Regions from separate parts of the Homo sapiens genome. Here region 2 is linked to region 1. The links come from fine-mapping of genetic effects on gene expression. Tissue or cell type: testis. Region 1 holds a variant in brackets; the other region holds the start of a gene. All regions are shown on one strand. Distances are from middle to middle.

What was found. PIP is the estimated chance that this variant, and not a neighbour inherited with it, causes the effect.
Region 2: FAM163B starts here. The variant in region 1 is fine-mapped to the expression of FAM163B in testis (GTEx, PIP 0.96).

What each region holds. Positions count from the first base shown.
Region 1 is chr9:133,577,490-133,585,587 of GRCh38, reverse strand. It overlaps FAM163B (family with sequence similarity 163 member B), which reads left to right. Exons shown (of 3, transcript NM_001080515.3): 2 at 5,342-5,457; 3 at 6,159-8,098. The coding sequence starts at 5,365. The coding sequence ends at 6,566. It overlaps LOC124902296 (a long non-coding RNA gene), which reads right to left and starts at 6,150. Exons shown (of 2, transcript XR_007061833.1): 1 at 5,748-6,150; 2 at 3,249-3,803. RefSeq lists an enhancer at 7,363-7,978. The variant C/T (reference allele first, on the strand shown) is at 3,796.
Region 2 is chr9:133,605,832-133,613,929 of GRCh38, reverse strand. FAM163B (family with sequence similarity 163 member B) reads left to right here and starts at 4,541. Exons shown (of 3, transcript NM_001080515.3): 1 at 4,541-4,853.

The DNA.
Region 1 (8,098 bases):
GGCTTCTCCCTGGCTCCTACCACGAGCGCTGGGCATCTCAGGTGAACGAGGCAGACAGAAGCCTTCATTAAGCGTCGCCTGGGCCCTGTACCATGCAAGGCAGTGGCGGGGGCTGGGGCTGGGGCACAAAATAAATAAGCTCTGGAGGGGTCCGTTCCCGTGGGCTTTACGGCAAGTGAGGGGGATGTGGCAAGAGGGACAGAAAACTAGCAGAGTCTGAAATTCAGCACGGGACGTGTGGCCCAGATGGTGGTTAGCAGGGGGTCTCCTGCCAGGGAAAGGTGGGTGTGGGGAGGGGGCTCCCGGGGGAGGCAGGTGGAGGCCCGTGTCTGGCTCTGCTGCCAGGTGTTTCCTGCCCCACCCCCAGCTCCACGCCATTCATTCCTCGGTGCCGGTGCCGCAGGAGACAACTGAAGCTTGTAAACGCAGCTGGCTCTCCCTGCCGGCTACAGAGACGAGATGGGGCCCTCAGAAGGGGACTGTTGCCCGCCCAGGCCCCCTTGCCACAGACTCTGTGGACTGGGGTGGGGGACGCACAGGGGAGCCCCATCTCACAACCTGTCCCTGTAAAAACCCGGGGTGGGAACAGGGAAGCAAAGCCATTTATAAAGCTTTAAAACCATTTATGGTCCCAGGGGGCAGATAAACAATTCAGCGCTATTCTCGCCAAATTGCCTTGGCTGGCAGTGCGGAGGCTTCAGGGAGCTGGAAGAGGGGTGGGGCTCGAGTCACAAGCAGGCGGCAGAGTAGCCTCTGCCAGGCTGTTGCTGGGCCTGACCCGCATGGCTCTGCCTCCGAGGCTTGGCCTGTGCTGTTCCCAGCACCAACAGGCCCTCTCCTTCTTCTCCCAGCCCATCCTTCACAGCCCGGCTCAGAAGCTTCCTCCTCCAGGAAGTTTCCCTCGGTTCCTCCCCCATCCGTTACCACCCTGAGCAGCCAAGTCCTCCCCTGTTCTCTCAGGCACTCAGCTTTCTCAGAGCACAAGTATCCTTGGGAGCCAAAGTGTCTGTAGCCCTTCCCGTTCTCTGCCTACCCTTGGAGGGTGTCATCTGGCTTTTTCGCCTTATCACTTGATGTTTGTTTACATTTTCATAATCCTGACTTTGTTGGGTGTCTAAATCATCTGGATTCCTGGCAGGACCAATTAAAAATCCAAGTCCCCCAGAGTTGGGAGGAATCAGCGTCTAAACCCTGCCACACCCATTGTACAGATAAGAAAACTGAACCCAGGGAGAGGCCTCTGACCCAAGGTCACCCGCAAGAGTAGAGCAGGACAGAGGCCCCGCAGACTCGTATCACCTGGGCCACAGCTGAGTAGAGTCCTGGGGTCCCCAGGGAGGAGGCTGAAGGTAAGCACTCAGGGAGGGCAGCAGGTGGTCCATATTCTTCCCCCATTAAATGAAGGGGTGGGACCTGGTCCCTCTCAGCTCTGGCGTTTGAAGTTTTGAAGTTCTGTGGTGTGTATTAAAGTTCAGGAAGGCTTCCTGGGAGAGGAGGGCACGTGCTGGGCTTTGATGGCGTGGTAGGTCCGGGGGGGGGATGGGCATCCCAGAGGGTGGGGCACAGCTAGAGCAGAGGGGAGGCAGGAGGGTGGAGGCCCAGGGAGGCCGTGTTTTTGGGAGCTGCTCGGAGTGAACTGTGGTCTGATGTCAGGCTGGGCGCTGGTGGAGCTGCCAGCGGAGTGTGTGTCTGTCGGCCATGCCTGGCCCTGGGACCTGGCGCCGTCTCGGGCGTTGCTGCTCCTCGGCAGGCGTGTATCTGCAGAGCGAGGCTGAGAGGCTCCAGCTGGACCAGCCTGGGTGTTGGAGGGTGGCTGCTGACAGCCCTGGGCACCTGGCCTGAGCCGGCACCCTTCCCGTCACGCCGCCAGGCTGCTCTCCGCTGGAGGAGACCTGGGCCCAGAGGAGCTGCAGCCAGGCGGAGCCAGGGACCGGCTGCATCTCAGACCTGAGAGAGAGCTTTGCGGCGAGCGGGGCCAGCTCCCTCAGGGACCCGATGAAGGACTCAGACCCAGGGAGGGACACGGTCCTAACATCAGCACAGCACTGAGCATGGTGCAGCTGCTGTCCCACAGAACCCCTGGGGTTCTCCCATTTTATAGAGGAGGGAACTGAGGCAGAGGAATGGAGGCACTGAAGGCCCATTCTTGCAGCTAACCAGAGGCAAAGCCAGGCTGGCACTTGGGGGTTTAGCCTGGGTGTCCTGTATGGCTCCCCAGTACCTGTCCCTGAGGGAGCACCTCAGCCCAGCCATGGCCACCTACAGTCTCCATCCTCCCTGCAGTCTCAGCCTGACAGCAGTGGGAGCCCCTCCACCCAGGCCCATGCTTCCCTATGGGAAAGCAGTGGCCCCCATTGCTATCAGTAAGCCCTAGCAGTGGGCCCTCAGCCATGGCCCGTAGTGGAGGGTGGTGCTGAATTTTAATCCCTGCATGACCACAGACAACACTCGGGCACGAGCCTCCACCTCCCTCAACCCCTCCCAAGCTGTGTGAGTGCCCTCATTGATGAAGTGGGGCCATAATTACCTGGGTGCAAATAGCAAAAATGCCCTCCAGGTGACATACACACAGTAGGTGACATACACACAGCAGGAGTCACTCTGCAGGTGTCGGGGAGGGATCGGCACCTGAGTCAGGACCACAACAGCAATCTCTCCGGCAGCTGTGGCCTTCCTCGCTCCCTCCGGGGACCAGCGCCTTCTGACTCTCCAACATGTGGCTGAAAACCCCACCCGTGGCTACAGCCTGGCCACAGCCTGAGCACTCATGTCTCTACCCAAGGTCAAGCGACCAGCAGGGACCGGCCAGTGTCTCAGGCCTTAATTCCATTTCCCAGGAGAGAGGCCGGCTGGCCCAGCCTGGGGTGCACGTCCATCCCAAACCCAATAAACTGTGGCCGAAAGGACAGCAGCAGAGGGCTCAGAAGTGGCCACCAGCCTCTTGGCTCAGGGCACAAAGAAGAGGGCCATGGCTGGGCCAGCACCCCCAAACCTGCTATCAGCACAGTGTGTGCTTCCCCAAAGGAGCTGTGGCATTCAAGGCATTCACGTGGAGGAGACATGGGGTTCAGCAGTCGGGGTAGGGTGGCAGGGGCCCCAAGGTGGATGGTAGCAGCGGATCCAGCCCTGACCTGACCCAGATCCCTCATCTTACTGGTGCTGGGGCCTGGGCGGGTCATTTCTCTCCAGGCCTCGGTTTGCTCCCTAGTGGGATCATTTGAACATCAAAAAGAATCATGACTGCAGTGGACTGAAACGCATCAAATATATTTTCAAAAATCAGTGAGATTGCACTGGGCAAGTTTCCACGTAGAAAGGCAAGCTGGGGCAGACAACAGGCTGGGACCAGTAGGCACGCGGGGCCTGCAAAGGGGGCAGGGTCACTTTTGGTTCACTGAGAGGTGTGGATCTGGGCTGGCCTGTTCTCCGTCCTCTCGGCACACACACAGCCACAAACCTCAGGGCACCAGCTCATTCTGATCCCTGATAAAGGGAGGAATGGAACCTCTGAGCCTTCCCTCTGCAGGCCGCATGCTAGGGTAACCACACAGATGATAAAGGCATGTGCTTTAGAGCTTTTTCAAGAAGAACTGGAGCTCATAAACGTGGAAAGAAGGATAACATTTGGAAAGTCACTACTTTGTAACTCCTAGTGAAGTAACAGATCCAGGTCACGCACAGGATGCTGCAGCAATGGGCTGGGAGACCCCCCGGAATCTGGCAATGGAAGAACTGGCCGAGAGCAGCTGCAGTCATTAGCTGATTGTGACGTCAAGATGAGGGGGACAGCAGACA[C/T]CAGGCCCCTGGGAGTGATGCAACAGGAAGCCAGTTTAGAGGAGAAACACTGATAAAGGAGCATGTTCAATGCCATGCGAGGAATCCCGGCCAGCTCCAGTGCCTGGAAAATTCTGTCAGATAAACAACCCAGTTTCTCCAATAAACAACATGGGGGTGCGGGGCGTGAATGGGTTTTGAGCTGTTCTAGAGCAAAAGGAGCCAAAAGCAAGTACATCCTGATTTGAACTAACCAACCGTAAAAAAGGCATTTCAGAGACGACAGGAGAAAGCTAAACGTAGGCTGGGTAATTTTTTTAAAATCCTCCTCCGTCAGATGCTGCACTGGAGTATTTATGGGTAAAGTGATATGCTCTGTGATTTCCTTTAAAATACTCCAATCTCTTCCTCCACCCCATACCCCAGCAAGAAAAAAAAATAAAAATGAGGCTTGGGAAATTGAGGAAGGGAAGTGGCGCCAGCTCCCACTGCTCTGTGAGAGGTGATTGTGAAGAATTTAGGAATTTTGTAAGCCGCTTGTCAAACCTTGCTTGAACTGAAACTGGCCATGGTAAGAAAATCTACACCACAAAAATCAGCAAATGCTCCCAGCCGGGTGCTTTGAGAGCTGGTTTATCAGCACAGCCCAGGACAGGGATGAGCTGAATGCAGCAGCCACTGACAGCATCACTCCAGCCTCCCTGCGTTGTGTTTGATGGACATTTTCCACAAGAAGGAGTTTGCAAAGGGCATGTCCCTAGGCCTGGAAATCCCACTTCTAAGAATGTATCCTGAAAGCCACTGAAGCAGGTTCAGGTGGTTCCCATTACTTAGCTACAAAGACGCTTATTAAAACATTGCTAAAAATATTTCTTTAATGTAAGAAGCCCAAACGTCAGGCAGGAATTGGTTTTCAGTTTTGCAAGATGAAAAATTCTGGAGATTAGTTGCCCAACAGTGTGAAATATAATTCATGCTACTAAGCCGCACACGTACAAATGGTGAAGATGGTACATTTTATGTGTGCTTTACCACAATTAAGCATTTTAAAGAAAAGGAGTCAGTTACATGAAACAATGGAATCGGGTTAGAGACTATGTTGCAGAAGAAAATTTAAGGATATGGCAGAATAATGGTGACTGTGTGAGATGAAAATGCAGGGAAGCAGGTTACAAAACCATATGTTCGGCCTGACTGCATTTGGGTAAATTTAAAAACGTGCAAGCTTGTAGAGCCAGGCTGGAAGGGCGCCATTCATTGACAGCATGCTACACTAAGCATGGAGAGACACGCTTGTAAAAGTGTCACAAAACCCTGTGCTATTAGCATCCACCTTCTACGGATGTGGAAGCTGAGGCTGGGAGAGGGGCAGGGACAGAGGCCAGCTGAGGCAGAGCAGGACCTGGGCTCCTGCTGCACCCCGTCCCCGGCAGAGCCCCTGCCTCTCACAGGCACATCCTGGGGTGCTTTTTTCCCCTCAGCTTGTCTTCTCAGTTCTCTAGAATAGCACGAGTGACTTTTGTGGTGAGGAAGCGTGATGCTCTAAAGCTGGCGGCGTGTGTTGCAGGCTGTTGATGGAGAAGGGGGCGGATGACAGCCGGGACCGTGGTCATCACCGGGGGCATCTTGGCGACTGTGATTTTGCTCTGCATCATCGCTGTTCTGTGCTACTGCCGGCTCCAGGTATTCCCGGGCGGCGGGGAAGGGGACAGGGCAGGGAGGCCCAGAGGGTGCCCCTACCTCGGGAGGGAGCCCCGCCTGAAGGTCACAAGGGTCACGGCCCGGGAAGTGGGGAAGAGCCCTGTGGCAGAGAAGACACACAGCAGAAGGCAGCAGGACCCTACCATGGGGCTCAGTAAGATGCGCCTGACTCCCCTCACCCAGAGCTTATAAAGAGGCTCAGAGACGGGAAGGGACTTAGCCAAGGGCACCAGCTGCCCAAAAGGAGTGTCACAGTGAGCAATCCTTCCCACCTGCACTCCAGGGCCATCCAGAGTCTCCATGTCTCCCTGAGAGATGAGGGGGAGCCATCGGGGCAGGGCGAGGCAACACAGCTGCCAGTGCCTGTGACCCCCGGCTCTGCTGATGTGGGGCTGCGAACCCCTCCACGCCTCAGTCTCCCCACCTGCAAAATGGAGATAACAGTCACACCTGCACGTTGCTGGGCGGAAGAGATGAGTGGATCGTTGTGAAGTGCTCAGCACTGCGCCTGGCCTGAGTGAGACCCATAGCACTGGTTAAACAGCTGAGGTGTCAGGCCTGGGCTTGGGCCACCCCACTCCCACCGTGCCTATCTCCCCTCCCCAGTCAGGGGTAGCCTTTCCCACATGTCGGTTCTGGGGTGGGAGCGGGCGGCCGCATGGTCACCGTCCCTCTGCCCGCAGTACTACTGCTGCAAGAAGGACGAGTCGGAGGAGGACGAGGAGGAACCAGACTTCGCCGTTCACTCGCACCTGCCCCCGCTGCACTCCAACCGCAACCTGGTGCTGACCAACGGGCCGGCGCTCTACCCCACCGCCTCCACCTCCTTCAGCCAGAAGTCCCCGCAGGCCCGCGCCCTCTGCCGCAGCTGCTCCCACTGCGAGCCCCCCACCTTCTTCCTGCAGGAGCCGCCGGAGGAGGAAGAGGACGTGCTGAACGGCGGGGAGCGCGTGCTCTACAAGAGCGTGAGCCAGGAGGACGTGGAGCTGCCCCCGGGGGGCTTCGGGGGCCTGCAGGCGCTCAACCCCAACCGCCTCTCAGCCATGCGGGAGGCCTTCGCCAGGAGCCGCAGCATCAGCACCGACGTGTGACCTGGGCCCGCCCCCGGGATCCTGGCCTTGAAGGTCCTGAGACAATGGGGGGATTCCTTTGGCACACCCACCTGGCCCCAGGCCCCAAGTGGGGCTTGGCTGAGCCCTCCTGGAATCCCTGTCCTCAGGGGAGGCCCAGGCTTGGGGAGCCCCCAGGCTCGTGGCAGGGATAAGGCTCATTGAACACAAATGTGTCCTGGGGGGAGGCACAGCTGGGGCCTGGGGCTAGAAGGACCAGGTGACCATACAGCCGGCTGGGCATGCACCAGGGCTCTCAGGCACAGAGGCCACCGTTACTCCTGATGATTCTGTCTCAGACCCAACAACCTGGCCTTCCCAGGAGGTCTCCATGTGTCACCCCCTCCCTGGGTCTCACCCTTCTCACCTGCTCAAGGAAGGGATGACCTCAGTGAGGCCCAGGGCCCTGCAGCAAGGCCCTCCCTGGCAATTGCAGACCAAGGATTCTGCTCCTCCACCTTGAACTCCAGCCTCTTTCTCTCCATTTTTCCCTCTCTCTCCCCTACCCGTCTCTCCCTCTCTCTCACACACACACTCTTCCGGGTTCAAGGGCCAAGTGTCTGCCTAGGCTGAGACACGTGCTGAGCTCCCTGAAGATGGACCAGCTGCCCCCTAGAAGGGAGACTTTCAGGGGCATCAGGGCCCTTGGGATGCTCCGCCCTGACCAGCTTTTTGGTGGCAGAGGGAGGCACGGGGAGAGGGAGAGGCCATGTCGCAGTCCCCCTGCCGTGGGAGAGGCAACGTGGAAATGTATAGACCCAGTGCTCAGCCAGAAACAGGGCCAGCAAGCGGCAGTGAACGGAGGCAGCCCGGGGCTCGTCAGGGGCAGAGCCATGGCCCAGGGGTTGAAAACCCCCGAGTTCCCCGTGAGACTTGGCTGGCCCTTCCCACCCCTGGGCCTCAGTCTCCCCATCTTGTGTGATGAGGAGAGACCCTGAGGACAGAGGTCTTCAGGCTGTGGGTCTCAACAGGAACTGAGATCCCCAAGGGAGACAGAGTTGCAGGTCACCTCCCCTACCTGCTTCTCAGCAGGACCTAGGAGGCCTGGCCCAGCTCCTGGTGGACCCCAAGCAGCCAGAGCCTACTGCTGCCATCTGAAGACCTCATCTGAGCCCACTTTCCACCAAGCGCCCACCCAGGCTGAGGTCTCCTGGGAATTCTCACCCGCTCTCCTGCTGCTAAGGAAATGACGTCAATGGCTACCCCAGAGAAATGCCCCACATCCCAGGACACCAGCCATCAGGAAGGCAGCTCTTCCTCACCCAGAAAGAGGCAATTATTTCCTCTCAGCAGCCTGGCCCCAGGAGCCCCCTTCCCTCTCTGGGGCTCTGCCTCTCCTTTTGTGCCCTGCCATGGAGCCCCAGGGCCGGGGCAGCCCCTCTCTGCCCAGGGAAGGCACCGCCCTCAAAGACAAGGCTTGGCCGGGCAGTGACCTTCCCTGAGCGGAGGGGTGGCTTGAGCAGGACACTTCTTGCCCTTACTCAAAAACGAAATGGCCAGTTTCCAGAGGCGTC
Region 2 (8,098 bases), 28 kb before region 1:
CTCTGAAACAATAAATCCTCCATAACTCCTGTCTCACTTCTTCTCACTCTGCAGCAGGATTTGTCAAGATGATCCGTGATTCACAGAGGGAGCCGGGAGAGACCCCTTGACGGGTCCCCGAGCGCCTCTCAGCCCCATCTCCTCCTCATCCATCATCTGCGATGATTCTTAAAGAACGAACACATCAAGCTTGCTGTCACAATGTTTTAAAATGTTGCAGTAATTAAAAACCACCGGTAATTTCTTTTCACACAGATGAGGCTGTCTTTTCAAACCAGGGCAATGGAAACACCCCACACGCTGCACACCTGAGCCCGCGCACGCCTCCCACTCTGTCCGCTGGCACACTCTGCTGCCCGACCCTCTCACCTTCTCTTGCACACTTTGGTACCTCGTCATTCTCCTGGTCCCATCTAAAAGACGTCCAATCTAACAGACCCAGGATGCGAGGCACACTCTGCCTATTCGGCATCACAGAGTAATCACAGTGACTTGCAGTTACCCATCTCTCAATAGTTTCTTTTTAAAAAGTTCATCTCTTCTCTAAATGGGCTTGATCTTGACCTGCACAGATCATCTGGAGTTGAGTGGACACAGGTTCAGTGAAAACGGATCAAAGGGGCTGTTGCTGGGCTCAGTCAATCAACTGCAGAACGTCTTATGGCTGCAGGCTAAGAAGAGGAAACAATTCAACGACCAAACAAAGGTTAATCTAGTAACTGCGGCAAGGCCCAGGTAATTTCCATAAATATGTGGAAACAGCAACCACTTCAATAGTTTGGCCTGGCACCAATATGAGGAGGAGCTTGGAAAACCGGACGTGGACCCCCTTTCAGTGCCCTGAGATCCATCGAGCAGCTGAATGGAGGTCGGTGCTGGGGGCCAGGGGGCACCCACACAGACCAGTGAGCAGCTGCCCCTTCTGGAATCTCACAGACTTCTAACACCGAGGGGTCCCCGGGTGCCAGCTGTGCTGCAAGTGGACAGCCAGCCTCTGCTCAGACATGTCTGGAGATGGCGAGCTCCTCCCTTCCAGAGGGTTCCCAGAAAGGGAATAGGAGAAGCTCTTGGCCATCATTCTCATTACTCTCCACATCCTGGCAGAAACTTTATTCCTCGAGCACTTTGTTCTTTCTGCCTCTGTAGAATGAGACTCAGCCATCAACAGCAGCTGCTCACATCCTTTGTTCCCAAGAACGTCGTTCCCTCCATTCGAGTGTGCAGGGGACTGTGCATGGGGGTGCAGGTGTGATTGGAATGTCAGGGTTTCCCCGCCACCGCTGGTTTTGTTTTTTCCTCTATATCCAGCCAATGAGCACCTCTTGTGCACATATAGATCCTCAGAGAGAAAGAAAGCCTGATGCCTCTTCTTCATGAGGCTGTAAGTCTTTGAGCAATGAGGCTATCCAACTCGACTCCAAGAAACGGATGCGCACAGAGGTCCTGCTTGTATAGTGTCAGGCTGATCTTACGCAAGCCCCATTTGCCCTAAGTGGAAAATGAACCTTTGTAAACTGCCACCCATGAACCAATGTGTTGGGAGGTGTTCAACCAACTTGGCCATCTGTTGAATTTGAGTTATATCCACGAAGCTCTGTTGTGGAATGATGCTGGTGGTGGGGACAGAGTAGCTGCCGTTGGCTGAGGTTGCCACGCGACTAAACAGCTTATTGTAGTGGATGGAGAACCAGTCCGGCGGCAGAATGTCACTCCTCCCACCCCCGGGCCTGTTTTTGGCCAACCTAAAAGAACTGCGTGTAACTAGGATCCTTTTTTTTGCACGCACCAGGAGAACTTGCTATTTAGGGAATCCTGATGATGAATTGTTTTTATAAAGTCAGACCAGAGACTCTTCCTTGTCTTTCTCTCCCCTCACCCATTTTTATTTTCTGAAATTGGTTTTTGCTTAAAATCAGGGCATGCTTTTGCACATAAATAATGAGTTTGGTGGTGACCATCTGGCATTGCGATCCAAATGAAATCTATTCAGTGTAGTCACCTCTTTGCTGGCTGTGTGACCTTGGCCAAGTCACTTCACCCCTTTGTTACCATCTGTAAAGCGAGGGCAATGCAGGCATCTACTGTACATATTGTGGGTAATATTCAGACCTCTTTCAAATAAAATGGGCTCCATTTTAAATAAGGTTTCGTCATCACGGGCATCAGGAACACATCTCTCTCCACAGCATGGGAAAGAAACCAGCATGTCAAGAGGCCAAGAGCTACAGAGTCTGAGCTGGTTCCACAGAGGTTTCCAGCTGCTCAGATCTATAGCTGCAGGATTCTGCAGAGTTTGAGTAAAAAGTCAGCATGGGGAGAAGTGGAAGGGCATTGAGCTGGTTGGTAAAGACAGGGCTTGGCAGTGATGTTGCTTTTAAAATTCTTGGCACACACTTGCAACTCTCAAATAAAAAACAAGTTGCTCAGTTGTCATAATGGAGTTTTTGACTAAAAGTGATGATTTAAAGGATTCCTGTGTCAACTCCTAGGACATCGATTGGCTGGCTGGTTTGTCTCTTCCTCCTGGCTCTCTCTCTTTCTGCCTTTCTCTCTCTCTCCTTATAAGGAATTTCTATCCGTGTTTACCATCCTTCTTTCTAGGTGGGGCTGGTTGGGAAGGATGTAGAAGTTCTAGAAGAAGGGGATTAGGAGCAATGGCTTGGGAATCAGGCCGATCCGCCTCAGGTCTGCTGCTGTTGAGCCTAAAGTTTTCACCTGCAAAGTCAGGGTAATGACAGTATCCATATCTCATCGGATCGCTGAGAAGACTAAATGAGGCAATGCTCGCACTGTGTTTAGCCTTGTGTCTAGCACGCATTAAGCACATAATGAGTGATGTTTATCATGAGACAAGTGCCTGGTGGGAGCAGGTACTACTCGCAGTTAATTAATGAATCAAACACAGCCCCTGGTCCCTTGGGAAATGAAGCAGGTGATGTTTAATTATCCTGCTTGGAAGAGAACAAGATACTCACAGGGGGCAGGGACCAGCTTTTCCCATTAGTTAAGAGGAAGGAGGACTAGCCTGGTTTGCTATAAGAAAACTCTCTATGGTCAAAGTGACCTGATCAGCCTGGAGAAACTCAGCAGGGGCCCTTGCCAGGGGCCCCAGCAGGGGAGGCAGCAGGCTGGACATTTGGAGCATGTCTGTATGGTGTGAACACTCACTCTCTTGTCCATGGGCAAGTTGCTCACCCATCTGTGCTCAGCCCATCTGTAAAAGGGAAATGGACTCCAAGCACTTTACTCTTCTGTTTGTCCTCAGTATTCTCATGTCTAGAATGAAGCAAGGTTATGGTTACTACCAGGATGGAGTTTTTTTATAGAGAACTTAAAGGTTGATCATAATGAAAGCACACATTTAAGGCCAGGCGTGGCAGCTCACACCTGTAATCCCAACACTTTGGGAGGCCGAGGCGGGCAGATCACTTGAGGTCAGGAGTTCGAGACCAGCCTGGCCAACATGACAAAACTCCGTCTCTACTAAAAATACAAAAAGAACAACCTGGGTGTCGTGACGCATGCCTGTAGTCCCAGCTACTCGGGAGGCTGAGGCAGGAGAATCACTTGAACCCAGGAAGTGGAGGTTGCAGTGAGCTGAGATCACGCCACTGCACTCCAGCCCGGGTGACAGAGTGATATGGCTCAAAAAAAAAAAAAAAAAAAAAAAAAAAGCACACATTTATATGGTGCTTTCCCACCAGGCACAGCTCTGAGTGCTGTACATGTTCTAACACAAAAGCCTTCCTAACATTCTTAACACCAGATTTCTCTCCGTTCAGGGTCCCTGCGACCGCAGGCTCAGCTCGAGGACCTGCAGAAACAGGGAAATGCCTCCTGGGGCACTCCTCTCAGGAGTAGGAGCCTTGGGTCAGAAAGGTCTCCCTCGTATCCAGCCCAAATCTGCCTTGCTTTAACGTCTAGCCATTGGTCTTAGCTCTGTGCTTTGGGGTCAGGGAGAAGGGATCTGCTCCCCTTCCCCGTGGATGTGGGAGAGATCCAAAGGCAGCCGCCATGCCCCAAACAGCCACTCACCAGGAGCAGCGTAAGCCTTGCTCCTCCTCTCAGTTGCTCCGGGGTTGCTAACTCAGAGAAGGGAAATAAATAGTAACAAAGGCGAGCATTTATTAAGTACTTATGGTGTGCCGGGCCTCGAAACATCATCGGATTTCATTCTCAGACCAACCCTAAAGGTGCTGGTGTTAACTCCCCATTTTAAAGATAAGAACCAGCCGCTCAACCAGGATAAGGGACTTGCCCTACTGCGGATAAGCAGCAGCTTCGGCCTGACTCCAGATCCCAACGTTGTGGAAGCCGGAACGCCCCGAGAACAGGCGGAGAGCGGAGGGAGCACCGCAGGGCGCCGGCCAGGGTGGGGGCACCCCCAGGCCTCCAGGAGGTCGCGCGTCCCGGGCGAGAGCGGACGAGCCGTCAGCACCAGGGACAGCTCCCCAGGCCGCTCCCGGCATCCCCCGACGACTGCGCGCGCGGGCCGGTGACGCGCGCTCCCCGCCAGGCTCGGGCGCGCGCCCTCCCCGCCAGCGCGCGCCCTGCGCTCGGGACCAGGCTGGAGCCGCGCGTGCAGCTCGCAGGGAGCCAGCCGGGGCGTCCGGAGTCGCGGCCGCAGCGCGGAGCTGGCAGGGGTGCCCGCCTGGGCACGCAGTCGCCTCCCCGGGGGCCTCCCGGGCTTCTCAGCGCCCGCCTCGCCCGCCCAGCCACACCAGGCGCCACCGCCGTGGCCTGGGCATGAGCGGCCGCCGCTAGCTGCGCCCTGCCCGGGTCGGACGCCCGCCCGCCCCGTCACGTGCGCCCAAGTCCTCGCGGCCGGGGCAGCGCGGTTCCCATGCTTCAAGGTAAGGGCCGAGCGGGCCGCGGGTCACGGGGTGTGGGGCAGAAGACGCAGGCTGGAAAGCTCCAGCTAGGTGCCCACTCGTCCAGAGTGCCCACTGCAGCCTGCCCCGGCTGCCTCGCACCAGGTCCCCTGACCCAGCTGGCGTCACCCATCCCCTGGCTTCCACCCTCAAAGCGCATCCCCGAGGAGGAGACTGAGACCCAGGTGGGCACGAGGGCCTAAGGGAGAGGTGGGGGACCCACTTTAGGAAGGGGGGCTTCATTTCCCTCGGAACAGTGGCCTGGGGGCAGGGGGCAGTGGGGAGGGAAAGTTTCCCAGAAGAGCCCTCTGGAAACCTGGCCGCCTTCTCTCCCTGCCAGGAGCTAAGACTTTTTCATTTGCTGAGCTTTGCCTTCTTCCAGAGTCGGTGCTGCATTTTCATCCCATCCCATTCACCCAACACCCACGAGAAAGGGGCATTGGCCCCATTTCACAGATGCAGAAACTGAGTCTCCGAGAGGTTTGGTCTCTTGCCCACGATCACAGAGTGGGGAAGTGGTGGAGATGGCCTCAAACACGCCGGCCTCTGTCACCACCACCTCACACCTTTGTCTGTTAGGAATCTCTGCTTCATTGACAGGTGGGGGGTTGCCTAACTGACACTAGGTTTCCTCAGCCAGAAAAGAAAAGACTCTACACACCAAAAACCCAAGAGATATTCAACATGGGTCCTCAGGGCTCCACTGTCTCACCCCACTCGTGTCCTGTCCTCCCGCAGCCACGGACTGCCTGGGCACAAGTGGTCCTGCCAGTGTGTGTCCCGTAGCAACCCCGATGGCTCTGAGACAAGAAACTCAAGGGTCAAGTTCATGGAACCTTCTGCAGGGTAAGGGGAGTATCCTTGAGGCCTGAGCCCCAGCATTCGTCCTAGCACCTTCCCCAGTAAGCAGGAGCTCAGGAGAGCCAGCGGGCCACCCTGCCAGCCTTCTCCCTTGCATTTCCCTCAGCCCCTGCCAACTCACGCTCTTCAGGGCTTCTGGGGAGAGCAGTAATTACCAACCCCCAAAAAGTTCAGGGTTGCTGGGAAAGCACCTTTGCCCATCTTCCCACCTTCTCCCTCTTATAGAATTGAGAGTGAAGTGGAGGTGACCAGGGCTCTACCCACCTGAGCAGGTGAGAACCAGCACTTCCTGGGCTGGGCAAGGGCTGGTTTTAACTCTTGGTGCACTGACTGCAAGCTTCCTAAACAGCTTAGGTGCTGGCAGCTTGTGAAAAAATCTCACCCTAAGGCTCGGGGGCCCAGGAAATGTGGGGTTTTGTTCATTCGGTCTTGCACTTGCTGGCAGTTTGTTGAGCATCTGCACGATGCTATGAAAAGACCCACAGGGCAGTCTTTGTATCCTGGATCCAGCTGGGTTTTGGTTTCCCTATCAGCTGAGTTTCCAATGGGGCCGGCTTGTCTAGACTCAGCCGGAAAGCTTGGAAATGGCTCCCGAAGGATCTGGGGGTCTGGGAAGGATGCACAGGCTCTCCCAGCCTCAGTGCCCCACTTGCATGGGGAGGGAGTGGGAGCTCCAGGGTGCATTGCTGGACTCTCAGGACGTGCTGACACCACTCAGAATCCTGGCACACAGAGGTGTTGCAGCTTCTCCACCCTCGCCTCTCCAGCAGGTAGGGCAAGGAGCCCCACAGAGCTCCTCCTACCCTTGAGGCTGGAGTCCCCAACACACGTCTGTCATGCCAGTACCATCAGCAAACATGAGCAAGGGCACCTGGGGAAAGGTGGGCACAGATGGAGAAGTCGGGACTCGAGTTCTGTCCACCTTTTTGGGTGACCTTGGGCAAGTCACTTTCCTCTCTAGACCTCAGTCTCCCATGTACAAAATTGTGGGGTGGATCATTTCATGTCCCCCCTCTGAGCCATTACAGCTCTGTTCATCTAAGCCCCGGATGGAGTAGGAAAGCTGGGAGGAGTGCAGTTCCTCCCTTTTTGCCATGGTATTGAGGGAGTGCAGAGCAGTTTTGAAATCTTCGGACTGACCTGAGTCCAAGCCCCCAGTCCGTGCCAACCCTACTCCCTACTCACATGATCACCCCCGTTTTGTATATTTAGGGGCTGGCTCTATATTCCTGACTTTTCTGGTGCTGGTTCTGGGTGAGGCTTCACAGCATGGAGACCCACTCCTGCAGTGAGACCTCTGGCTCCTGCCACGTGGGCCTGCCTCTGCAGCCTCATGGCAGCGGGCTCCAGCGAGGAATAATTACAGCACTCGGGAGGGGAGAGATGTATTACATCTCAGTCAATTACCTCTGACTCTAAACTCTCGGGGCAGGAGGGGAGGCAGAGCAGCAGCCGAGCCCTTGTTCTGTCCTCCACTCCGCTCCTGGCCCTACCGCCACTTCCCTCTTCAGAGTAGCAAGTCCTGATCTGTGTGTTGGTAAAATGGCAATTTGTGTGGCAGAGAGAGTGGTTTCCAGGCCAGACCACGGGTGCATCATTCCGCATCCCCATCTGCAAAAATGAGGGTGCTCCTGCCTTCCCTGCTGGCACATGGGACACCGGGGCAACCGTGAGCCTGGCCAAAAGGCTTTTGGATGCCAAGAGCATGTGGTCCTGGGGACCACCCTACAGAGGCCAGGGTGGGGCTGGGGGGCTTCTCTGCCAGCTGCTGCCACACTTGGCACTGGTACTTCTTGCAGTGTCTCAGTCTTTCTGGATCTGCTCCAGAGGGGATTTGATGAGTTCCGAGGCCTCAGTGTTTGCCAGCTCCCTCCCTCCGTTGCTGAATCCTCCCGCAGGCCTTGGCCCAATCCCCGCTTGCTGGGGGTTGCTGGAGAGGGGAAGGAATCCTGTTGCCCCTGGGGTGAAGTGGGCTGGTGGAGGTAGAGTTGAAAGCCCAGCTTTGCTGCTTTCTGGCTGTGGAACCCTGGGCCTGAAGGTCTTGGGCTGGAAAATGGAGACTGTGCCTCCTCCTTCCCTCGGGCCTCATCAGTGAAGGAGGAGGCTGGAGAGTCAGGTGGGGTCCGGTTCCGCCAGGCTTGTAAGCCCTGCTCAGTGGTTGGGCTTTCCGCCGCAGTCCACAGGAACCAGGCTCTGGGAGCCCGGAGGGACATGGTTCGCTCTGCCCTTTAGGGACCCTCTCTGGCTGCACCATGGGGAATGACTTGGAGAGGGGGCCCTGCAGGCAGGAAGCTGGGGAGGAAGGGAAATGATGGAGGCCTGGACCAGGGTGGTAAGAAGAGGGCAAGTGACAAGCATGTTGAGGG